2 separate regions of the Homo sapiens genome follow, and region 1 is linked to region 2. A link means that fine-mapping ties the variant in region 2 to the plasma level of a protein whose gene starts in the linked region. Region 2 holds a variant in brackets. A gene starts in the other region. All regions are shown on their forward strands.

Evidence for each region. A credible set is the group of variants that fine-mapping cannot tell apart. PIP is the posterior inclusion probability: the model's chance that the variant is causal. Protein levels are from antibody-based Olink assays in UK Biobank. Linkage for the fine-mapping came from a reference panel and not from the study's own genotypes, which makes the PIPs less certain.
Region 1: it holds the start of SAA4, and the variant in region 2 is the best candidate, but not a certain one, in a credible set for the plasma level of the SAA4 protein (UK Biobank, PIP 0.51).

What each region holds. Positions count from the first base shown.
Region 1 is chr11:18,227,443-18,240,091 of GRCh38, forward strand. SAA4 (serum amyloid A4, constitutive) reads right to left here and starts at 9,360. Exons shown (of 4, transcript NM_006512.4): 1 at 9,275-9,360; 2 at 8,394-8,488; 3 at 4,953-5,091; 4 at 3,913-4,222. The coding sequence starts at 8,484. The coding sequence ends at 4,060. SAA2-SAA4 (SAA2-SAA4 readthrough) reads right to left here. Exons shown (of 6, transcript NM_001199744.2): 4 at 8,394-8,488; 5 at 4,953-5,091; 6 at 3,913-4,222. The coding sequence ends at 4,060. It also overlaps a transcript of SAA2 not described here. RefSeq lists a silencer at 1,939-1,988.
Region 2 is chr2:27,520,398-27,533,259 of GRCh38, forward strand. It overlaps GCKR (glucokinase regulator), which reads left to right. Exons shown (of 19, transcript NM_001486.4): 18 at 2,063-2,197; 19 at 2,872-3,287. The coding sequence ends at 3,042. Among named protein-coding and RNA genes, the nearest start is that of SPATA31H1, 11 kb to the right of the region's middle. The variant AT/A (reference allele first, on the strand shown) is at 5,728.

The DNA.
Region 1 (12,649 bases), not on the chromosome of region 2:
GTCTATTGAGAAAACCACTGAGGTTAGGGAAAAAGCAGTGGCTGGGCCAGGTAAGGTAAACCTTACCCAGAGAGGGGGCTTGGAACAAGGACCACTTTCAGGACCAGTCGTAGATACAGCTGTTCTTCTCTGGGCAGTTCCACCCCCATATCTGAGGGAGCTGGATTTCACATCAGGAAGAACCCTGACCACCATCTCAGTAGAGACCTCCACATCAGTAGAGAATATATATCAGCATCAGTTAGAAGCACATCAAACCAGGGTGAGGCCAAAATGATTACCCCCTCCTTTACATCTCTCCCCTTTCCCAATCCTGAGGCTGAGAAGTGTGATAGAAAGACATCTCAGAACTAGACTATCCCCACCCTTCTCTAAGGTGCTGGTGCCAGAGGAGCAGGGAAAGAGTCTCTAACCGTCACCCCTCCCAGCACTCCCACTACAATCTAGCCAACAATAGCGGAGCAGGATGCTTTAAAACAGACATGATATTGGAGCTTGAAACGGGACTGCAGTGACCTTTAATAATCTAAATAATCGGCCAGCCGCGGTGGCTCACGCCTGTAATCCCAGCACTTTGGGAGGCCGAGGCAGTGGATCACGAGGTCAGGAGACTGAGACCATCCTGGCCCACATGGTGAAACCCCGTCTTTACTAAAAGTACAAAAATTAGCTGGGCGTGGTGGCAGGCGCCTGTAGTCCCAGCTACTTAGGAGGCTGAGGCACAAGAATCGCTAGAACCCAGGAGGCGGAGGTTGCAGTGAGCCGAGATTGTGCCACTGCACTCAAGCCTGGCAACAGGGCGAGACTTCATCTCAAAAAAAATAAAATAAATAAAATAAAATAAAATAAAATAAAATGGGGAGACTAGTTAGATGGCTACCGCAGTACCCCAGATGAGAAATGATGTAGCCAGGAGCATGAGGGTGTAAATGAGAGGAAGTCAATGGATTAGAGATGAACTTTGGAAGTTCACATCCAGCGGATTGAATGTGGGGGTAAAGTGAAGGGAAGCATCAACACATTCCCCTAACTGGTGTGAGGAACAGAGAGAATGGCCATGTCATTAACTGAAATGGAGAAACCTGGAGTGTGAAGAGTTCTGACGGGAAAACCCGAGTTCATTTTGGGACACGTTAAGTTTGAGATATCTGGAAGCCAGCTATGTAGATATGTCAAGTAGCCAGTTGGATGTACAAGCATGGAGCTCAGAAATGAGTTTTGCAGGGGGAGATATAATTTTAAAAGCCATCCACATATAAGTACTATTTAGACTTGTGAAAGAGAGCATAGAGAAATAAAGAATGGGGGCCCAGAGCCAAGTCTGAAGAACACAGAGTTTGGGGAGATAAAAAAAGTCCCAGCTAAGGAAATAAAGGAGAATTGAGGTAGAGGGTAATATTATGCTACTTAGAGCTGATGAAGGAAAGAGTAGTATTATGAAGCCAAGAGACCAAATATATCAGGAAGGAAGGGGAAGGCAACTGCGTTGAATGTTGCTCACAGAGCTACTGATATGAGAAAAGAGAGATGTTCATTGTTTTTGGCAGCATGGAGGTCAGTGGTGACAAAGGTATTTTGCTGAAGTTGTGGGGACAGAAACCAGGCTGGAGTGGGTTAACATATGATCAGAAGTGAAGAATCAGAAGGTGTGTAGATGGGCAATACTTTCAACAAGTTTGACTTATTAAGAGGAAGAAGACAATGTGCAAGAGTGAAGAGTAATGTGGGTTGAAGTGTAGGTTTTCAATGGGATAATCTAATTCAGAAAGCAACTACTGAGTGCCTGGACCCTGCTAGGCATTAAGCATGCAGTGATGAACAAGATATGGTGCCTGTTCTCAAACAAGTCAGACATTTCCCCAAGCATAAGGGCTCACCTGGCCATTTAAACCAAGTGCTGGAGATCCACGAAGAAGAAAGGGGTCTCCACTGCTGAACCTCTTGGCCTTGTTCAGTGTATCACAGGTTCTGAAGTCAGACAAACCAGCCTGCAGTCCTGGCTCTGCACCTGTTACATATGTGACCTTGGAGAAGGTCCTAAACACAAACCTCTCTAAACCTCAGTTTATCCAGCTGAGAACATCAAAGCCTTCTCTGCAGCTTAAATCAGATAAAGTATTTAAACTGTAGGGCACAGTCTTGCAATTGCAATTAAAAATGGCAGCTATTCTAATTACTATTTGCTGACTTCCCATACCCCAGCAAAATTTGGATTGCCACCAGTGTGTGCTTCTGTTGAGGCTCTTACTAAACTGTGTTGTCTATCTACATATCTCACTTCCCCTTTAGGACAGGAAGTAGAATTTTATTTGAACTAAAAGCCAACGAAATGCCGGCCAGGTGCAGTGGTTCAGGCCTACATTTTCAGACCCTTGGCCAGTTGAGCCCATGAGTTAGCCCAGCCCGGCCAACATGGTGAACCCCCTTTTTTATTAAAAACCCAAAAATTAGCCAGGTGTGGTGGCCCATGCCTGTAATCCCAGCTGCTCGGAAGGGTGAGGTGAAAAAATCCCCTGAACCCGGGAGGCGGAGGTTGAGTAACCCGAGATCACCCCATTGCACTCCAGCTTGTTTGACAAAGGGAGATTTTGTCAAAAAAAAAAAAAAAAAAAAAAAAAAAAAAGAGAATAAAGATAAGGAAAACCAACAGGAGAGTCATTCCTTAGGTAAAATGAGCGGGACAAATTAAAAATTGAGTCAGGGGAGGCACGGGTGTTGATAAGAGATAAATCAGAGTCGGCCAGGCAGAGGGGCTCAGGCCTGTAATCCCAGCACTTTGGGAGGCCAAGGCAGCAGATCATTTGAGGCCAGGAGTTTGACACCAGCCTGGCCAACATGGCGAAACCCCATCTCTACTAAAAACACAAAAATTAGCCGGGCATGGTGGTGCGCACCTGTGGTCCCAGCTACTCCAGAGGCTGAGGTGTGATAATTGCTTGAACCCAGGAGGCAGAGTTTGCAGTGAGCTGAGATCGTGCCACTGCACTCCAGCTTGGGCAACAGAGAAAGACTCTGTCTCAAAAAAAAAAAAAAAAAAAGAAAGAAAGAAAGAAACCAGAGTCCAAGATAGCAGTTTCTAGGATAGAACTCCTAGGATTAGGCTTCTCTAAGCAATGTACCTTGTTTTTATTGAGACAGGGTCTCACTCTGTCATACAAGCTGGAGTACAATGGAGTGATCATAGCTTACTACAGCCTTGACCTCCTGGGCTCAAGCAGTACTCTAGCCTCAGCCTCCCAAGTAGCTGGGAATACAGGCACATGCCATCATGTCTGGCTAATTTTTTTGGTTTTTAGTAAAGATGAGGTTTCACTATGTTGCCTAGCTGGTCTTGAACTCCTGGGCTCAAGCGATCCTCCTGCCTCAGCTTCCCAAAAGGCTAGGATTACAGGCATAAGCCACCACACTCAGCCCACAATGTACCTTCTCCATAAGGAAAGAGCTCACTGGGGGACAAGGCCTAGAGGCAGAGAGTGGACAGGATGCAATGAATTGGGCAGTACAAAGTCTGTATACAGAGAGGCCTGGAAACTGCAACAAAATAAACTGTGAGGCCCTGAAGAAGAAGTGGGAATTTGGGGGTAGAAGTCCAATCTGAGATACAGAGGAGACTGATGGAAGACTGCCCAGGGCTGTGCCAGAGCCATGACTCCAGCCACTCAGAAGCCCAGGATGATGGTCAGTGCTTTGCCGGCTTAGGCTTACTCAGGAGGGGAAGCTGGGGCCGAAAATGACCAGAGAAGCTTGGCTTGGGTCATGTGAGGAGCCTGCATAGTTACAGGCCAGCTGGGAGTCCTTGGTCCCCCTCAGTCACAGGCTCATCTGCCATGGTGCTGTTTATCTTCCATATGGCCTCAGATGACCATTCTTCCCAGAAAGTCTGCCTCAATGTTCCCAGTTTCCACCAACAAATTCAATTTGACAAACATTTATTGAACACCTCTAGGTGCCCTATACCAGTTCCTGGGGACACAAAGCTCAGTGACCCTGTGTCCCTGTCTGGGGGGAGAAGTGTGTGGCTCACAGCCCAGTTTCCCTGAGAGCAGAGGAGCAGGAAGCTCAGTATTTCTTAGGCAGGCCGTCAGGTCTGAAGCGGTCGGGGTCTTTGCCACTCCGGCCCCATTCCTCAGCTTTCTCGTTGGACTTCGAGTCCTCCAATACAGTGCTGCTGTTTCCAAATAAATAGCAGTCTATTAATCCCTGAAGATAGACCCTGGAACGGCTGCAACCCAAAGAAAGGAGACAGGAGATTAATCTCTTGACTCACCTGCTCACCTGAGACAGCTCCACCTGCTAACTCCCTCCTCTTCTCCCACCCAAGTAATGACTGAGAGGAGGCTGGAAAACTCAAGGAAAGGGGAAGAAAACTATCAATCTTCTTGGGCAAAGGCCTAAGTCTACTGATACTTGCGCTCTGCAACAGAGTGCTTTCCCTTTTTTTTTTTTTTTTTTTTTTTTGAGACAGGGTCTCATTCTGTTGCCCAGGCTGGAGTGCAGTGGCTCAATCATGGGTCACTGCAGCCTCGACCTCCTGGGTTCAAGGGATCTCCCACTTCAGCCTCCTGAGTAGCTGGGACTACGGTGCATGCCACCACGCCTGGCTAATTTCTTTTATTTTCTGTAGAGATAAGAGTCTTGCTATGTTGCCTAGGCTGCTCTTAAATCCCTGGGCCCAAGAGATCCTCCCACCTTGTCCTCCCAAAGAGTTGGAATTACAGGTGTGAGCCCCTGCACCCAGCCCCTGCAACAGTGTGCTTTCAAGACCTCTCCTCAGTTCTTACTTTCCCTTGTGGGTGAAAGGAGACATGTCTTCACCAGCCTTGCTCTGGCTCTGCCAGCCACCCAGACCCCAGGAGTATGTGGAGGAGGGGAAAGAGCCACAGGTTCTCCTGACTCTCAAGACAGATAGGCACTGCTGGCCTCTCACTGGAGTCCCCGGGAATCTGTGTTACCTGATGAGTTTAGCAGCCCAGACACCCCCAGGTCCTCTTTGGGCAGCATCATAGTTTCCCCGAGCATAGAGATATCTGTTTGAATTTTGGTGATTGGATATCATTATGTCCCAATAGGCTCTGCCCATGTCCCCAACCCCTGGAAAGAAAAAAAATGACAAAAATGAACCCAGTGACATACTGGAGAAATGTAGAAATGAACATTTTCCACTGATTTCCAGATTTTGGCCCTTGACAAAATAATCCTTTGAAATCATACGTGGAGATAAACATTACTTCCTGTGAACAGCTTCCCTGAGTAACTGTAAGGAAGGTGCTTTTCCATGGATTACATTGAATTGTATTGGTTGGCAGTTGTCATGCCCTGGGCTACATCTTACATGGGTCTGTGTGTGCTGTGTACAAAGAGGGGACGCTCATGTGAGGAATGCTTTTCCATGGATTACATTGAATTGAATTGGTTGGCAGTTGTCATGCCCTGGGCTACATCTTACATGGGTCTGTGTGTACTGTGTACAAAGAGGGGATGCTCATGTGAGGAATGTCACAATGGAGAATAGTACTACAGATGTAAGATCCAGGGACATTACAAGGGACTTGGTGAGAAGAGGAGGGGGCTGCACATCTACCATAGCCCATAAGAAAAATACATCCTTACCAGCTGAGTGAGGACAACTAGGACTTGAATAAATCTGACTGCTATGGGCATAAATGGCACAAGAAAGCCGAGGGAATGGGCAGTACGTGATGAGGTGGAATGACCTGAGAGAGCTTCATAGGACCTGGATAATCAGACTTATCATGAAGGGCATGAATGTAAATGTTTAACTCTCTGCCCTGACAATTAAGTGTCAGTTTCCACATTCTTCAGTTGGGGGGAATCATACCTACCTCCCTGGTGGACTAAATGAGAAGATAAAATGAGGTAACATACATAAAATGCCTAGCATATTGGAATACTTGATGCAAATTGGATTCCTGTTCCTATTAGTGAAGGGCAGTAGTGACAATAAGATACCACTATACACCCAACAGAATGATAAAAATTTTTAAAACTGACAATATAAATTGTGGGCAAAAATGTGGAACAACTGGAACTCTCATAATTGTTTTGGGTTTTGTTTTTTGTTTTGTTTAGTCACAGTCTCCCTCTGTCACCCAGGCTGGAGTGCAGTGGTGTGATCATGGTTTTCTGCAGCCTTGATCTCCTGGGCTCAAGTGATCATCCCACCTCAGTCTCCTGAGTAGCTGGGACTACAGGCACCTAATAACACACCCAGCTAATTTTTTTTTTTTTTTTGGTAGAGATGGGGTCTCACTTTGTTGCTCGGGCTGGTCTCAAACTCCTGGCCTCAAGTGATCCTCCTGCCTTAGCCTCCCAAAGTGCTGGGATTACGAGTGTGAGTCATCATGCCCAGCTCTCGTAATTGTTCATGGAAGTGTAAATTGGTACAATTTTGGGAAGCTGTTTGCTGGTATCTACGAAAGCTAAATTGACATGACTATACCTTATGACTCTACATTTCCATTCCTGAGTGTATACCCACAACAGAAACGAGGGCTTATGTACACTAAAGTACATGTACACCAATGTTTATTACAGGTTTAGCCATGATAGCATAAAACTTTAAAAAGCCTAATTATCCAATAATGTAGGATAAATTGTGATATCAGTATACAATGGAATACTATGTAGCAATGAAAAAGAACAAAATATTAATACACATGACAAATGCTGTCATGTATATTAGTATGTCGTAATGTTGAGTGAAACAAAGCCGGATACAAAAGACATATTCTGTATGATTTCTTTTATTCAAAGATCAAACACAGGGACACTAATCAACAATGATAGAGGTAAGAATAGGAGTTACCTTTCGTGAGGGTTGTTAACTGGAAGAGGGCATGAGAGACCCATCCGGGGTGTGTGAAATGTTTGACATCTTGATCTGATGGTGTAATATGGATGTTTGTATGTGTAAAAACCTCATCAAGCTATACTGTGTACTATATGTAAGTTATATATCATTTTAAAGTTTTTAAAAAGATTAGTGGAAAAATAGATGTTTGAAACAGGTCTAAGCCAGGAAGAGCTATAGAAAATGTCTATCAGTGCCTGTGTTGTTCAATCAATAAATATTTTTGAGTTCTGCTGTGGTTTACGTGTTACCAAGTTCTTTAAACCAACTCACTTGGAAAAAAGAAAAGCTGTGATAAATAGTTTTAATTGTTACTTAGGTACTGTGTTCTAAGGGATATTTCTCACTAACTTCATGTATTATTTTGTGTCTGTAATTTTGTCAAATAGTTTATCTCTGGCATGGCATGACTGTCCTTTCTCTGATGCATGCTTTATGTTCATTCTATGTTTTCCAGATCTACTAGCAAGAGTTTTCTCCAAGCATCTGACAGATTCTGTCACTGGGTGACAGAAAAACCCAAGACAGTTGTTCTCATTGGCATTGTGCTTAAAGTAACCTGGGGAGTTTTTCAAATGCTATTCCTAGTCCCACTTCACTTCTAAGATTCTGACTCAGTAACTATGAGAAGAGGCTTCAGAGTGTACTTTTAAAACAAACACCGGCCGATTTAAATGCTGGTGGACCATACAACAAATTCTGAAATACACTGACCTAAGGGAAAAGATATTCTCTACTATGTGCAGAAAAACTTAGTACATGCTACCAAAACTTTTTAAAAACTATTTATAGAATATCATTTTTAAAAGCACAAAATGCAGAAAAAATGAAAATTTATAAAATTTCAATTGAAAAATTACAAAAAATTCAACTACAAAATTAATAACAACACATGAAGTTCAAAGTATTGCATAACCTGACAAACATAGTTTTCCCATTTTAACAGCTAGTCAATAAGATTCGTTTCCCATCCAGAATGGCAGAAGTCAGTTTCCCAGCCGTATCTCAGCCCTCCTGTGGCTAATCAGTAGAAATTTGCTCTTTTTATTTATGGATAGAAGTTAGGGCTTAATTTTCATAAGCTCTGCATCCCAAGCATTGGCCATTTGCTTGGGTACAGGATGGGATTTCTCTACTCTCTGCTAGGCATGTCTCAGTCTTGGAGTATAATTGTGAACTCAGTATATTCCCTGAGGTGGATGAGCTAAATAAACATCATGCCCTGAGAAATCTGCCATCTGTAAATTTCCGCAGTGGGAGATAACCCCCTGGAAGTTTTTATCCTTCTGCACTCTACACCAAGAGTACAGGCTGGGCCCAAAGCATCTTTAACCTCTCGTCTGGAAACCCCAAGGGAGGGTGATAAATCAGACCAGCCTAGAGGAAGAAACAGATACAGAAAACCACACTCCTGCTCTGACCTCTGTGTGGCTTCTCTAAGGAGCACTCACATCCAGTGAGTATGTGGCCCCTGCTCAGAATGAATCCTGGGTATGTGCCCTCCATCCTCCAGAGTTCTTACCTTGGAGAGCCTCCTTGAAAAACGAACGCCAGCTTTCACTGGTGACTCCCATGACCAAGGAGCAGAAAACAATGCCTGTGAAAAGCCTCATTGTGCTGAAGAGAAAGAAAGACAGGGGCAGAGGATCATAAAAAAAAACACAGATCTATGTTTTGAGGACTGAATTTCTTTCCTTTTTTTCTTTCTTTTTTTCCTTTTCTTTCTTTCTCCTTCCTTTCTTTCTTTCCTCCCTTTCTTTCTTTCTTTTTTTTTTCCTATTGCCCAGGCTAAAGTGCAATGATATGATTAAGGCTTACTGCAGCCTCGACCTTCTGGGCTCAAGTGATCCTCCCACCTCAGCCTCCTGAGTATTAAGGACTACAAACGTGCACCATCACACTCAGCTAATTTTTTTTTTTTTTTTTTTGGTAGAGACAAGGTCTTGGTATGTATGTTCGGCCCAGGCTAGTCTCGAACTCCTGGCCTCAAGCAATCTTCCTACCTCAACCTCCCAAAGGATTACAGGCATGAGCCACTGTGCCAGCCAAAGGACTGAATTTGAAAGACTAATTCCCCATTTCCATTTGTTTGTATGAGAATCATAACTGCATGAAAGATTGAAACGGGTTTTAAGAAGAAGCATAAACCCTTAATTCTCAGCCCAGATCTCTAGAAAGAATAAGAGGATTCCAACGTGTTATTTGGTCTGTGGTCAATTTGTCACCCAATACAGCAGACTAAAGTCAATCAAGAAGCATTTCCTGAGTTCCTACTCTCCTCAGCACTGACCCCGTAATGAGGTAGAAAACACAGTTTCTCTCCAATTGAAATTTGACAATTATGTGAGAAAAGGATCTCAAAAGAGTCAAATAAGAGAAATTACTCCTTGGAAGAAACCTCACCTGTGGACCTTTCTCCAGATGAAATTTCAGTAAAGGCAGAGCTGCTGGTATCTTCTGGCCGTGGAGCTATAGTTGGTACCTCTGCTGGCTTTGGCATTAATGGGAGAACGGTTTTAAATCCAACAACCTGCCTTGCCAAAGTCCTTTTTGCTCAATTCTTTGGGTATTTTAAAAATTAACATATTGGGTAATAGTGTTTCCTTATCTAGAAGTAGTTTTCCAAATTGGGTCATCAAGGTATTTATTTTCTGGCAGTTTTTCTTAATTGCCACTTTTCCCTCTTTTTAGTTTCCTGTATCACAGAAGAGTTGTATTTGCAAAATCCAGTGTGGGAAGACAGAGGTCTTTCTCCACTTTCTTCTCTTTGTGTCTTTCCATTCTTAACTGTTTAGTAGGAGGTCTTCCCAAAAAATTGCACATAGATATTATGCTGTAGGAAGTGATCAATATTATTAGCAAAAGAGATGTTTGCTTGTCTCTTGTGACTTCTCTCTAAAGAATGTAAGGACACAGAACAAGCAAGACTTGACTGTACCATTCATGGGATGAGGTAATGATTCTGGGAGAATACAAGGACAGGAATAACACCAGAAGATCAAGGGTGAAGGCCTTTGAGGCATAAAAACTCTTTTTTCATATAAATATGTATTATTCTGCACTTTCTTTTAAACTTACTATTTATTGGAAGTCTTTCCATGTCGGGCTTGTTGCTTTTTTTTTTTTTTTTTTTACAGCTACACAGTATTCCATTGCATGGATGGACCATAATTTATACAATATTAATGGCTGTTTTGACAGTTATTAACCTTTTGATATTACAAATAATGGTGCATTTATTAACCTTGTACATATGTCTCTTGCACATGTACAAATATATCTCTAGGATAAATTCCTACAGAAGAAACTCCATGGTGAAAAAGTATCAGATTTTATAAATTTTTTGTTTGTTTGTTTGAGACAGAGTCTCACTCTGTCCCCCAGGCTGGAGTGCAGTGGCATGATCTCAGCTCACTGCAACCTCCACCTCCGGGGTTCAAGAGATTCCCCTGCCTCGGCCTCTTGAGTAGCTGGGATTATAGGCACATGCCACCACATCAGGCTAATTTTTCTATTTTTAAGAGAGACGGGATTTCGCCATGTTGGCCAGGCTAGTCTCGACCCACTTACCTCAAATGATCTGCCCACCTCGGCTTCCCAAAGTGCTAGGATTACAGGCATGAGCCAACGTCCCTGGCCCTAGATTTTATAAATTTTTATATGTTGCAAATTGCCTTCCATGAGGGCTGTATCAATCTCTACTCCCACCAGAAATGAGTGAAAGAACTTGGTTCCACATTGTCTCTCACACAGTATACTCTCAAACTTTTTGGTCTTTGAAATTGTGAGTAAAATAAAACTCAAAGTAATTTTAATTTACATTTCTCTTATTATGATTTTGGTTTCACATCTTTCCACATGTTTAAGAGCTATTTCTATTTTCTAGGAATTGTGAATTCATACCTTCATATCAAAGTAGTCATTTTTTACTGGTTTATTGTGTTTTTATTTATCACATTAGAGAAACTTTTTATATACAGGGAAAATGAGTATGTTATCTAGGATATGAGTTACAAATATTTTTCCCAGCTTATTTATCTTCTGATTATGATGGCTTATGTTCTGCCAAAGAAATTATTTATGTTCTTGTCTTTATTAATATTTTCTTTAGTTGTCTTCTCAATTTCATAGTATTTGAAGAGCTTTCCCTACTTTGTTTTTTTGTGGTTTTCTTAAACTCAAATGTTTTTATTTCATTCCTTTTTAAAAATTTTTTGTGGGTACATAGTAGGTGTATATAATTATGGGGTACATGAGATATTTTGGTACAGCCATGCAATGCGCAATAATCACATCATGGAAAATTGGGTATCCATCCCCTCAAGCATTTATCCTTTGTGTTACAAATAATCCAATTATACTCTTTTGGTTATTTTACAATGTACAGCTAAATTATTACTGACTATAGTCCCCCGTTGTGCTATCAAATACTAGCTCTTATTCATTCTAAGTATTTTTTTGGTACTCATTAACCATCCTCACCTCCCCTCACTCCCCCCCTCCCCACTACCCTTCCCAGCCTCTGGTAACCATCCTTCTATTCTCTATCTCCATGAATTCAATTGTTTTGATTTTTAGATCCCACAAATAAGTGAGAACATGTGATGTTTGTCTTTCTGTTCCTGAATGATTTCACTTAGCATAATGACCTCCAGTTCCATCCTTGTTGTTGCAGCTTTCCCTACTTTGGGCTATAAAAGAATTTTCCATGGATTCACCAGATAATGTTAATATTATTATTATCATTTTCCTTATTTGTTTATAAATATTTAGCATATTTGGAATTTGTCCTACCGTAATATATACAGTATGTTTTCAACATGATGTTATTTTAGATGGTCACCCAGTTGTACCAATCCCATTTGTTGAATAGTCCGTCTTTTACTTAATACGTTAACATACAACCTTTATCACATACAAAATTCTCATATGCACTTATGTCTAATTCTGAGGATTTGGTTCCACTGATCAGGTTTTTTCTATATATAAGTCAGTACTACACTGTTGTACTTATTGAGGCTTTCTTCAATGTATTAATTGCCCTCATTACTTTTTTTTCAGAAGTAGTTGGAGTTCATTTTCTATTATTTCTTCTAACTGCTAGTTTTTGTATCCACACCTTCTTGTCTGTGGTGTTTTGATTGATGTCTGGGGTGTCCAGGAGTCCTATCATACCATCTCCCATTCTCTCTTATCACTGCTCCATTTAGTTCTCCAGACCTTCTCCTGCAACCACCTTCACGAGATAGTCAATGACTCCATGTTGCTTAAGCCAAAGGTGAACTCCTCAACTGCTAAGCAGAATCTGATACTACTAATCAATATCTCCATCAGGGATTCTGGAACACCATGCTTTCCTAGTTTTCCTCCTTTCCCAACAGCTGCTCCTTCTCAGTCTGTTTTGCTGTATCCAGCTTCTCCTCCAAACTTCTTAGAGAATGGAGACACCACACTGAGCCTTCAGACCTCTCTTCAGTCTCCATCCACATGCTGAGGGAGCTCATCCATGCCTCTTAGCACAGGTTCCAAAGGCCATGGTCTTGTTAGTGGTGGTTATTTACACTGAATCTTCATTGCCTGGATCAATGCCTGGGTCATGTAGGAGTGAAGAAAAAAGGCTTCTTCCTTCACTCTCTACAGTTCAGCTGAAAATAAACTGACAAAGGCAGATTAATAGGAGAAAAAGTCATATACACGTATTTTAACATGCAAGGGGGAAAATCACAGGAGGGTGATTTCCCAATAACCCAATGGGGTACCGGTGATTATATACTATTC
Region 2 (12,862 bases):
GGGACTGGGCATGATATGTGAGGGACACAGGTCTAACCAGAGTGGCAAGTCACTTTAGAGCGCAGTGAGGGATTGTGAAGAAGTAGGAAGGGGAGGGATGTGGGAGGTTAAAGCCAGGCAGGAATTTGGACTTTGCCAAATGCAGCTAGACCTGCGCTGTCCAAAACATTGGCCACCAGCCACATGTGGCTATTGAGCACTTGAAATGTGGCTAATGTGACTGAGGAACTGAATTTTTAATTTTATGTAAAAACCAAAGCTGTATACTTTTTAAATTAAATGTAACTTTAATATTTTGGTAGGACTACATTTCTCTTTTTAGCATTGCAAATCTAGCACCCAAATTGAGGTGGGCTGGCTGGGCACGGTGGCTCACGCCTGTAATCCCAGCATTCTGGGAGGCCGAAGCAGGCAGATCACTTGAGGTCAGGAGTTCGAGACCAGCCTGGCCAACATGGTGAAACCCCGTCTCTACTAAAAATAAAAAAAATAAAAAAATAGCCGGGCATGTTGGCACAGGCCTATAGTCCTGTCTACTAGGGAGGCTGAGGCAGGAGAATAGCTTGAATCTGGGAGGTGGAGGTTTCAGTGAGCCAAGATAGTGCCACTGCACTCCAGCCTAGGTGACAGAGTGAGACTATCTCTCAAAAAATAAAATTAAAATTAAAAAAAGCCACAAAAAAACAAATTGAGGTGTGCTCTAGTTGCAAAATACACACTGGATTTCAAAATACAAAATCCGAATATAGAAAAATATTGCAAAATATCTGACTAATAATGTTTAATATTGTTTACATTGGGTTATATATTGGGTTAAATAAAATATATTATTAAAATTGATTTCAGGCCAGGTGTGGTGGCTTACACCTGTAATCCCAGCACTTTGGGAGGCCAAAGCGGGCAGATCACAAGGTCAGGAGAAATAGGTGAAATCACATTTTTTTTTTTTTTGAGATGGAGTCTCACTCTGTCACCCAGGCTGGAGTGCAGTGGCATGATCTCGGCTCACTGCAACCTCCACCTCCTGGGTTCAAGTGATCCTCCTGCCTCAGCCTCCTGAGTAGCTGGGATTACAGGCATGCGCCACCACACCCAGCTAATTTTTTTTTTTTTTTTTGTATTTTTAGTAGAGACGGGATTTCACCATATTGGCCAGGCTGGTCTCCAACTCCTGACCTTGTGATCCACCTGCCTCAGCCTCTCAAAGTGCTGGGATTACAGGTGTGAGCTGCTGTGCCTGGCCAATTTCACCTATTTCTTTTTTTAATGCAGCTACTGAAAACTTAAACTTACATATGTGGTTTGCATTATATTTTTTTCTTTATTTTTATTTTTTTTAGAGACAGGGTCTCACGCTGTTACCCAGGCTGGAGGGCAGTGCATTGGCACCATCCGGCTCACTACAGCCTCAAACTCCTGAGCTCAGGCAATCCTCCCACCTCAGCCTCCTGAGTAGCTGGGACGATAGGCAGGTGCCACCATGCCCAGCTAATTTGTTTTATTTTTTGTAGAGATGGGGTCTTGCTGTGTTGCCTAGGCTGGTCTCGAACTCCTGGGCTCAAGTAATCCTCCTGTTTTGACCTCCCAAAGTGCTGGGATTACAGGTGTGACCCACTGTGCCCAGCCTTGCATTATATTTCTACTGGACAATGCTGAGCTAGACAGAGAGGAGGGTAGTGACAAAATGGAAGCAGTGTTTGCAGATGAACAGTCTTACATTAGTGTGCAAGATGGATTTGGTTACAGAGGAAACTAGAGAGAGGGAGTCCAGATTACCAACCTACAGGATTGGTGGGACACACATGCAAATTTGAGCAATTTGCCATTAATCCTCCAGTTTAACCCAGCCAGTCAAGCCCACCACCAACCCCTTTAACCTAGTTTTTCTTTACACCTGGGAATTACAATTTAGGATTGCCAACATGGACAAATCATCTACAGCCTCTATAGCCAGGCCTCGGGATCCCAGCCTCTCACTCTCATAGTTTATTCTTCTCCCTTGACTCCATTCTTAGTTCCTCTGGCCTTTAGCCTGACACTGATCTTACCACTTCTTCCTTAGCGGTTCTCTGGACAGTCCAAGGCTCGATGCATCGAGAGCCTCCTCCGAGCGATCCACTTTCCCCAGCCACTGTCAGATGATATTCGGGCTGCTCCCATCTCCTGCCATGTCCAGGTTGCACATGAGAAGGAACAGGTATCCTGCCCACTGCTGGTCATTCAACAAATACTTTTTGAGTACTTTCAGTGTGTCAGGAAGTTTGTTCGGCACTGGGTTTACAAAGCTCAGTGGCACTCTGCTCACAAGGACCTCCACATTCATGGGGTCTTTGGACTGGGTTTTGAAGGATGAATAGGAGTTTTCCTGGTCAAAGTGAAGGTTTCTTTCTGCTCTTAATCCACCTTGTTACCACCTTCTAATCTTAATAACATCCTATTTGCATCTAACCTAGTGGCTCCTGATTCCTGTATCAAATGCTTTAACTCCTCCAGGGTTCTGTTTTTTTTTTTTTTTTGAGAGAGAGTCTTGCTCTGTCACCCAGGCTGCTGGAGTGCAGTGGCGCGATCTCGGCTCACTGCAACCTCTGCCCCCGGGTTCAAGAGATTCTCTTGCTTCAGCCTCCCAAATAGCTGGGATTACAGGTGCCAGCCACCAATGCCTGGCTAATTTTTGTATTTTTAGTAGAGATGGGGTTTCGCCATATTGGCCAGGCTTGTCTCAAACTCCTGAACTTAAGTGATCTGCCCACCTCGGCCTCCCAAAGTGCTGGGATTACAGGCGTGAGCCACTGCGCCCGACCTTCCTCCGGGGTTCTTTCTCTGATGACCTCATTCCCTCAGGCTTCAGTGCCCACTGCCTCTTCCCCACAGGTGATACCCATCGCCTTGCTGAGCCTCCTATTCCGGTGCTCGATCACTGAGGCTCAGGCACACCTGGCTGCAGCTCCTTCTGTCTGTGAGGCTGTCAGGAGTGCTCTTGCTGGGCCAGGTCAGAAGCGCACTGCGGACCCCCTCGAGATCCTAGAGCCTGACGTTCAGTGAACCCATGTTTCTGGGTGGGTGAAAGGGGCCCAACCCTGCCCACTTCAGCCCAGCCCGCCCAAGGGGACTTGTGCCAGCAGAACATGTGGGAGGAAGAAGCCCCGTTTCCAGGGCATCCGCAGCCCAGGGTAGGGAGAAATATTCTCTCCACTTTGGGGGAGAGTTCTTGCTCTCGACCTAGTGGTTTCTACTCTCACCGACTTATTCTGATTTCAGAAATAAAATGAAATGTCTTATTTTGGAAAGTTAACCTTTCAAAGTCAGTAAATCAAACAGTAGATCAGAGGTGGGATAGGATGGGTGGCATGGGTTGGTCTTAACAGCAGATTTGTTTCTTTAATTCTGTCCCCAACTCCATTTCATTGGTCCCTAACACAAGCCTTATACTGGCATCCCTATATTTTCATTACCAACATGCAGCCACGTGTGCATGCGTGCACACACACTCCAATCCCACACAGACACACAATGAGAGGTGGGAACTTTTAGATAATTCCAGGGGAAGAGGGAAGAAGTTGTGTACCTAACATAGGAAACCCAGAAAAAGGGCAGTCTTAATCAGACATGACAAGATCTAGAATGACTGCTACATCCACGCATTAGACCATGAAATGAGGGTCACATCCCCTGCCCCGTGTTTGTAAGAGGAACATAAGGAACTCTGGAGGTGCTGAAAGCCCTTGGTGGTGGGACCCAACAAACACTAGAAACCCCGGGCTGTACATTTTAGACATCAGCTACCCCATGTTTTGACAAATCAAAGACACCCTTGTTCATCCTAGATTCATGCCAGCTCTTTAGGGCCTGTGATATATGGCCCTGACAGTAGAGAGCTGGTTCCTCCTTGTGCCTGAGAAATATCCAGGTAATAGATACTCAGGAACATTCCTCTGGGGATGAAACTCTCTGGAAAGGTCCCTGGAACTTTTAGGCAGGAGGGTGACTGCAAAGGAGCCAGATTTTGGTTTTATGAGGATAGAGTAATCAACCTTTTTAAGGTGGCCATAGGCCCCTCTGTGCATCTGAGGGCCTGCAGCCTCTATGTGAGCTCTGTTTTCCTGTTCCACATCTTCACACTGATGCCTTGGATGATCAGTAATCCCCCTTTCCCCAGCCACTACTCTCACGATGCTTCCTGAGTACCACCCCTTTCATCTTCCACAAACACCTCTCCCAAATTCAAGATGGCTAAAGTTAGGAAAGGCTCCTGCAAAGTCCCTCTGCTTCTCTTCACCCACAACTCTCTACCACGTTCTTTCATCGGGTCAGTTCATCTCTCAGCATGGTGTCATGAACAGTGTCAAGTCTGAGAAGATACCTAGCATTCTGGGACCCCAAAGGGCAGAGCACCCCTTGATCCTGTTGATGATGCCAACTGTACAGTAGCTCCCCTCCCACATTTGGAGGGGATAGGGCACAGGGTTAGATTTCTCCAGGGCTGGATGCAGAAGAACTCTAGAAGCCCTGAGTTCTTTTAGTTGCCAAGTACGTGGATGGCATGAAGACATCAAGTGAATTCAATTCTTATGTAGTTGGACACAATATTCAGGTATTATGAATATTGTGGGACATTATTGTGGGACATTATGAATATTGTGGGATAGCCTTGGGGGACATTAGAAGCTAGACACACTCTGGCATTGTGGCAGAGATGAAGATGACTAAGATCTGATGCCTACCCCCTAGAAACTCACAAGCACATAGCAATTAGAATACAAGACAGAGTTGAAGTGGATTAAACAGCGGGATAAGTACAGAGAGCTGCTGAAATTACAGGGTAGGCCAAGAGTCAAGGAAAGTTTTGGAAGAAAGGAGGCTGGGGTGGGGTAAAGGAACAGCCAAAGAAAACGCAAGAAGGTTTGAAGATTCACACTGGGATATGGATCTGATAGCAGAGAATCTGGTCATTGTCAATGGGATTTGTGCTCCAGGCAGAGCTAAAGAAGTTCAAAGATTTTTTTAGAACTATCCAGACACAAATGATAGGGTGACAACTTTTGCAGTTATTTGGAGAAAGTAAACATCTGAGGGCAAAAACAGCAAGAGAATAATCCATTATTAATACAAGGCAGTAATTATGTAGAAAGGACTAAAGGGCCTGGGCCTGAAGACTGGATTAGATTGTGGAAGATGAAGAAAACAATTTCCCAGCACATATATTTGCTGGATCAAAAGCAAAAGGGGGCTAGGTGTGCCATCCTAGCTACTTGAGAGGCTGAGATGGGAGGATCACTTGAGTCCAGGAGTTCAAGGCCAGGCTGGGCCACATTACAAGACCCTGGCTCTAAAACAGAAAAAAAAAACAAGAGGGGGTGGGACAAAATATATTTGGATATCGCACATACTCTAAGCCTGACGTTATACACACACACACACACACACACACACACACACACACACACACACATATATATGGAATATATAATATATATCCATATATATATATGGAACTCATGAACTCGTCTCCAAAATCTAGCTAGCTATTCTTTTCATAATTTAGATGGTCTCTCTCTCTTTTTTTTTTTTTTTAAGGAAAGTGTCTCACTATGTTGTCCAGGCTGCAGTGCAGTGGTGCGGTCATAGCTCACTGCAGCCTCGAACTCCTTGGCTCAAGCAATCTTCCTGCCTCAGCCTCCCGAGTAGCTAGGACTACAAATGTGCACCACCACACCTGGCTCATTTTTA[AT/A]TTTTTTTTTGTAGAGATGGGGCCCTGCTATGTTGCTCAGGCTGGTCTTGATTCCTGGCCTCCAGTGATCTTACTGCTTTAGCCACCCAAAGTGCTGGGATCGTGTGTGTGAACCACCACACCTGGCCAACATTCGTCCGGTCTAACATTCAGATTGTTTTGAATGTTACACAGCCTGGAGCCAGCTCTTGAATATTAGATAAGCTATAACGTTGAAAGAGGATGTTGGGACCAGGTAGGAGACAGAGGGGTCTCCATCTGGTTCCAGGGATGGGCTCTACAAATACAGCAAAATGCCTAAGATCCAATGGAAACTTAGGGTTGGACCCAATTGGACAGGTGAGTCAAATCCTAGGGTTGAGAGGACAGGTACTATATCTAGGTGATGCAAAATGCTCCCATCCTGGGAGAGAGAAGTGGGTCATTTTTAAGCTAGTAACTGGGGTGCTGTGGAAAAGACAAGGAAAAAGACAGGAAGAGGATCCCTGGAGCATCTTGTAGTCACAGAAAGTAAAGAATTGCTCAAAACCTCCACAAGGATGACAATATGTCAAAGGGATACAAGAGCCAATGTGAAAGAGCTCCTAGTGCCTAAAGTGGGAACAATTTGAGCAACAAAATAAGTAACAAGCTGGTCATGGTGGTAGGCGACAGCAGTCCCAGCTACTTGGGAAGCGAGGTGGGAGGATCGATTTCTTAAGCCCAGGAGGTTGAGGCTGCAGTGAGCTGTCATCATGCCACTGCACTCCAGCCTGGGTGACAGAATGAGACCCTGTCTCAAATAAATAAATAAAATTAAAAAAAACACTTGGTTTAAAAAAATACATGAGTACGCGTGAATTCGTACCGTTATAAGCAAATGATTGAATAAATAAAGTGGGGGAAAGTACCAATTTTTCCTAAAGAAGAATTCTAAATAAACACACACGCGCGCGCACACACACACACACACACACACACACACTCCTTTAGGAAATGGAGCTTAATCATCCCACACCACCTCTCCTCCAATGTGGGTTAGATTTAGGGGCTCACTTACAAAAAAACAGAGTATGGGAAAGGGAATGGGTTTTACGGTGGAGAAACCAGGCAAGCACTACCCTAATCAAGTAATCAAGATGGGCATCACCAGCAGGTATCACGCACCTCCTGATATGATATCATGAGAAAGGCATGTCACCTCTGTGGTATTCTTCCCCCAAACACATAACCTCAGTCTAAGCATAAAGAAAACATCACAGTAACCCAGCTTTAGGGACATATTATAAAATACCTGCTCATATTACAAAATACCTGAAAATTTTCAGTCATGGAAAACAAGAAAAGACTGAGAAACTGTCATAGACCAGAAGAGACTCAGGAAGCATGACTCACCTACAGGGTGCTACCCTCGGTTGGATCCTGGAAAGATAAAGGACTTTAGTGGCAAAACTGGTGAAACTGCATGAAATCTGGAGTTTAGTTAATAGTAAATATACCAATGTTAATCTCATAGTTTTGACAAACGTACCAAACTTATGTAAGATGTTAATGTTAGGTGAAACTAGGTGAAATATATATGGGAATTTGCTGTACTATCTTTGTAACTTTTCTGTAAACCTGAAATTTTTCAAAAATAAAAAGTTTATTCAAAAAATAAATTTAAACTGAAAGCCTTTCCTCTTAGATCTGGAACGTGACAAAGATCCCCACTTTCACCACTGATATTCAACACAGTACTGGAAGTCCTAGCTAGAGCAATCGGACAAGACAAAGAAATAAAGGGCATCCAAACTGGAAAGGAAGAAGTCAAATTATCCTTATTTGAAGGAGATGTGATTTTTTTTTTTTTTTGAGACAGAGTCTTGCTCTGTTGCCCAGGCTGGAGTGCAGTGGTGTGATCTCGGCTCACTGTAACCTCCGCCTCCCGGGTCCAGTCGTTTCTTCTGCCTCAGCCTCCTGAGTAGCTGGGATTATAGGTGCACACCACCATGCCTGGCTAATTTTTTGTTTTTTTGTTTTTTTGTTTTTTTTTTTAGTAGAGACGGGGTTTCACCATGTTGGTCAGGCTGGTCTTGAACTCCTGACCTTGTGATCCACCTGCCTCAGCCTCCCAAAGTGTTGGGATTACAGGCTTGAGCCACTGCACCTGTCAAGATCTCTACAATGAAAGCTATAAAACACTGATGAGAGAAATTGAAGATGGCACAGAAAAATGGAAAGATATTCTATAATCATGGATTGGAAGAATCAATGTTAAAATGTCCGTAGTACCCAAAGCAATCTACAGCTTCAATGCAATCTCTATCAAAATATCAATGACATTCTTCACAGAGATAGCAAAAACATCCTAAAATTTATATGGAACCACAAAAGACCTAGAATAACCAAAGCTATCCTGAGCAAAAAGAACAAAACTAGAGGAATCCATTACCTAACTTCAAATTACATTACAGAGTTATAGTAACGAAAACAGCATGGTACTGGCATAAAAACAGATACATAGACCAATGTAACCGAATAGAGAACTCAAAAACAAATTCACACACCTGCAGTGAACTCGTTTTTGACAAAGGTACCAAGAACATACATTGGGGAAAAGACAGTTTCTATAATAAATGATGCTGGGAAAATTGGATCTCTGATATGGTTTGGTTCTGTGTCGCCACCCAAATCTCATGTTGAATTATAATTCCCAATGTTGTGGGAGGGGCCGGGTGGGAGGTGACTGGATCATGGGGGTGGAGTTCCCCCATTCTGTTTTCATGATAGTGAGTGAGTTCTCACAAGATCTTATGGTTTAAAAGTGTGTGGCACTCTCCCCTTTGTGCTCTCTCTCTTTCCTGCTGCTATGTGAAGAAGATGTTGGCTTCCGCTTCACCTTCCACCATGATTGTAGGTTTCCTAAGGCCTCCCAGTCATGTTTCCTGTTAAGCCTGTGAAACTGTGAGTCAATTAAACCTCCTTTATTCATAAATTACCCAGTCTCAGGTAGTATATCCATATGCAGAAGAATGAAACTAGACCCGTATCTCTTGCCATATACAAAAATCAAATCAAAATGGATTAGAGACTTAAATCTCAAACTATGAAACTACTATCAGAAAACACTGGGAGAAACTCTCTAGGACATTACCCTGGGCAAAAGTTTCTTGAGTAATTCTCTACGAGCACAGGCAACCAAAGCAAAAATGGAAAAATGGGATCACATTAAGTTAAAAAGCTTTTGCACAGCAAAGGAAATAATCAACAAAGTGAAGAGACAATCCACAGGATAGGAGAAAATTTTTACAACTACCCATATGACAAGGGATTAATAACTATATATATGTATATATATATATATGGAGCTCAGCTCTATAGGAAGAAATCTAATAATCCAATTTAAAAATTGGCAAAAGATGTGAATAGCCGGCCAGGTGCGGTGGCTCATGCCTGTAATCCCAGCACTTTGGGAGGCCAAGGCGGGCGAATCACGAGGTCAGGAGTTCGAGACCAGCCTGGCCAACATGGTGAAACCCTGTCTCTACTAAAAATACAAAAATTAGCTGGGCATGGTGGCACGTGCCTGTAATCCCAGCTACTAGGGAGGCTAAAGCAGGAGAATTGCTTGAACTGGGACCCAGCAGGTGGAGGTTACAGAGAGCTGAGATTGCACCATTGCACTCCAGCCTGGGCTACACAGCGAGACTCCGTCTCAAAAAAAAAAAAAAAAGAAAAAAAAAGAAAAAGAAAAAAAAAGATTTGAATAGACATTTCTCAAAAGAAGACATGCAAATGGCAACCAATCATATGAAAAAGTACTCAACATCACTGATCATCAGAGAAATGCAAGTCAAAACTACAATGAGATATTATCTCACTCCAATTAAAATGGCTTTTATCCAAAAGACAAGCAGCAACAAATGCTGGAGAGAATGTGTAGAAAAGGGAACACTTGTATACTGTTGGAATGTAAATTAGTACAACCATTACGGAGAACAATACCACTGCTGGATATAAAGACAAAAGAAAGGAAATCAGTATATTAAAGAGATATCTGCACTCCCATGTTTGTTGCAGCACTGTTCACAATAGCCAAAATTTGGAAGCAACCTAAGTGTCCATCAACAGATGAATGGATAAAGAAAATGTGGTACATATACACAATGGAGTACTATTCATCCATAAAAAGAATAAGATTCTGTCATTTGCAACAACATGGATAGAACTTATTTCACTTATTATGTTAAGTGAAATAAACCAGGCACAGAAAGACAAATGTTGCATGTTCTCACTTATTTGTGGGATCTAAAAATCAAAACAGGCTGAGCATGGTGGCTCACCTGTAATCCCAGCACTTTGGGAGGCTGAGGCAGGTGGATCACCTGAGGTTAGGAGTTCAAGACCAGCCTGGGCAACATGGCAAAACCCCTTCTCTACTAAAAATACAAAAATCAGCTGGGTGTGGTGGCAGGCACCTATAATCTCAGCTACTTGGGAGGCTGAGGCAGGAGAATGGCTTGAACCTGGGAGGCAGAGGTTGCAGTAAGCCGATATCGTGCCATTGCACAGCAGCCTGGGTGACAGAGCAAGACTCCGTCTCAAACAAACAAACAAACAAATAATTGAACTTATGGAGATAGAGAATAGAAGGATGGTTACCAGAGGCTGAGAAGGGTAGTGGAGGGGTAGTGGTGGGGAGGTGGGAATTGTTAATGGGTACCAAAAAAAATAGAATGAATAAGGGTGGGCACAGTGGCAAATGCATGTAATCCCAGCACTTTTGGAGGCTGAGGCGGGAGGATAATTTGAGCCAGGAGTTCAAGACCAGCATGGTTAACATAGCGAGAGCCCATCTCTACAAAAAATAAAAGAAAAATTAGCTAAGCATGGTGGTATATGCCTGTAGTCCCAGCTACTAAGGAGGCTGAAGCAGGAGGATCCCTTCAGCCTGGGAAGTTGAGGCTGCAGTGAGCCATGATTGCATCACTGCACTCCAGCTTAGGTGACAGAGCAGTATCCTGTCTCAAAAAAAAAAAAAAAAAAAAGAATAAGGCACAGTATTTAATAGCACAACAGGGAGACTAAAGTCAATAATCAGTTAATTGTACATTTAAAAATAATTAAGAGTGTAATTGGATTCTTTGTAACACAGAGGATAAATGCTTGAGGGGATGAATACACAATTTTCCATGATGTGATTATTCTGCACTGCATGTGATATGGTTTGGATCTGTGTCCTCACCCAAATCTCATGTTGGATTGTAATCCCCAGTGTTGGGGATGGGGCCTGGTGGGAGGTGATTGGATCATGGGGGTGGAGTGCTCATGAATGGTTTAGTACTATACCCCTTGGTATAGTGAATGACTTCTCAAAAGAGCTGGTTGTTTACAAGTGTGTGGGACCTCATTCTCTATTTCTTCTGCTTCGGCTGTGTGAAATGAGCCTGCTTCCCTTTCCCCTTCTGCCATGAGTGTAAGTTTCCTGAGGCCTCCCCAGCAGCTGCTGTGCTTCCTGTACAGCCTGCAGAACAGTGAGCCAGTTAAATTTCTTTTCTTCATAAATTACCCAGTCTCAGATATTTCTTTATAGCAATGCAAGAATGGACTAATACTAATCATAGTATCATAATTGTGTTATGGAATATGTATTATGATCTAAAAATAAAAACATGTATTATGGAATACAGTATCATAATACAAATATCTCATGTATTTCATAATATATATTATGTACCCACAAACACTAAAAATTAAATTTTTTAAAAAATTAAAAATAAATATATAAAGTTAAAATTCCTAACTACAATAACATATATTTGGGAAGGGATAAATTGAGTTAAAATATTCTAAGGGCCTTGATTTTTCCATAAAGAAGATAAAAGTTTTTATTAATTTAAGGCTTTGATAAGCTGTGTGCATATTGCATTTTAAAAGGTATCTGCTAAAAACAGGGTTGGCAAACTTTTTCTGTAGAGATAGATAGTAAATATTTTAGTCTTTGCAGGCCCTGTGGTCTCAGTCATTACTGTTCAACTCTGCTGTTGCAAGCTTGAAAACAGCCGTAGACAATATGTAAAATGAGTGTGGCTGTGTTCCAATAAATCTTCATTTGCAAAAACAGGCAGCATGCTGGATTTGGCCCACAGGCCATAGTTTGCCAAGCCTTGCACTAAAAGAATAAAAACAGTATAATTTCTAATTAGTAAAGGGGGAAAATGAAGTAATTAAAAATAGTCATCTAATTGAAAGGCAAGAAAAGAGAGAAAAAGACTGCGCCAGGTGGCTCACATGTAATCCCAGCACTTTGGGAGGCTGAGGCAGGTGGATCACCTGAGGTCAGGAGTTTGAAACCAGCCTGGCCAAGATGGCGAAATACTGTCTCTACTAAAAATATAAAAATTAGCTGGGCGTGGTAGCATACATCTGTAGACCCAGCTACTTTGGAGGCTGAGAAAGGAGAATCGCTTGAACCTGGGAGGCGGAGGTTGCAGTGAGCCAAGATCACACCACTGCACTCCAAAGTGGGCAACAGAGTGAGACTCTGTCTCAAAAAAAAAAAAAAAAAAAAAAGGAGAGAAAAAGAAACTTAAAATATAGGACAAAACAGGAAGTACTAAGAGGACAGATCATGGCCCAAATACTTTGGTAATTACATTAAAGGTAAATGAAATACATGCCCCAATTAACACTTTTTTTGTTATAGATGTGTCTCTTGCAAACAGCATATATATGGATTTTGTTTATTTTGTAGCCAGTATTAAAGCAAAGGCATATAGAAAGGTTGATAGTAAAAGAATGGGAAAAGATATACTGTGAAATACCAACCAAAAGAAAATAGCTATGGCAATTGTCATGCCAGAACCCTATTGACTTCAGTAGGGATAGCATCATGTTGCAGAGGCTAGAGAAGAGACCTGGAGCTAGCAAAGAAGACATTGGGCTTATTGAGGGAAATTACATACAGGGCAGTCCACTGGTGGTGGGCTAAACAGGAGAACCAAACTGCTTATAAAAAGCATGCAGTTTATATAGTATTTTCACTTAGCACCCTCCTCCTAGCAACCTCCTCCTGGCAACTTTCATTTAACTCAAAACAAAAGGCTTCAGTCCCCTGTATGTCCTGCATGTCACAGGCCATGCCGGGGGTTCAGATGTTCATTATACATAAGG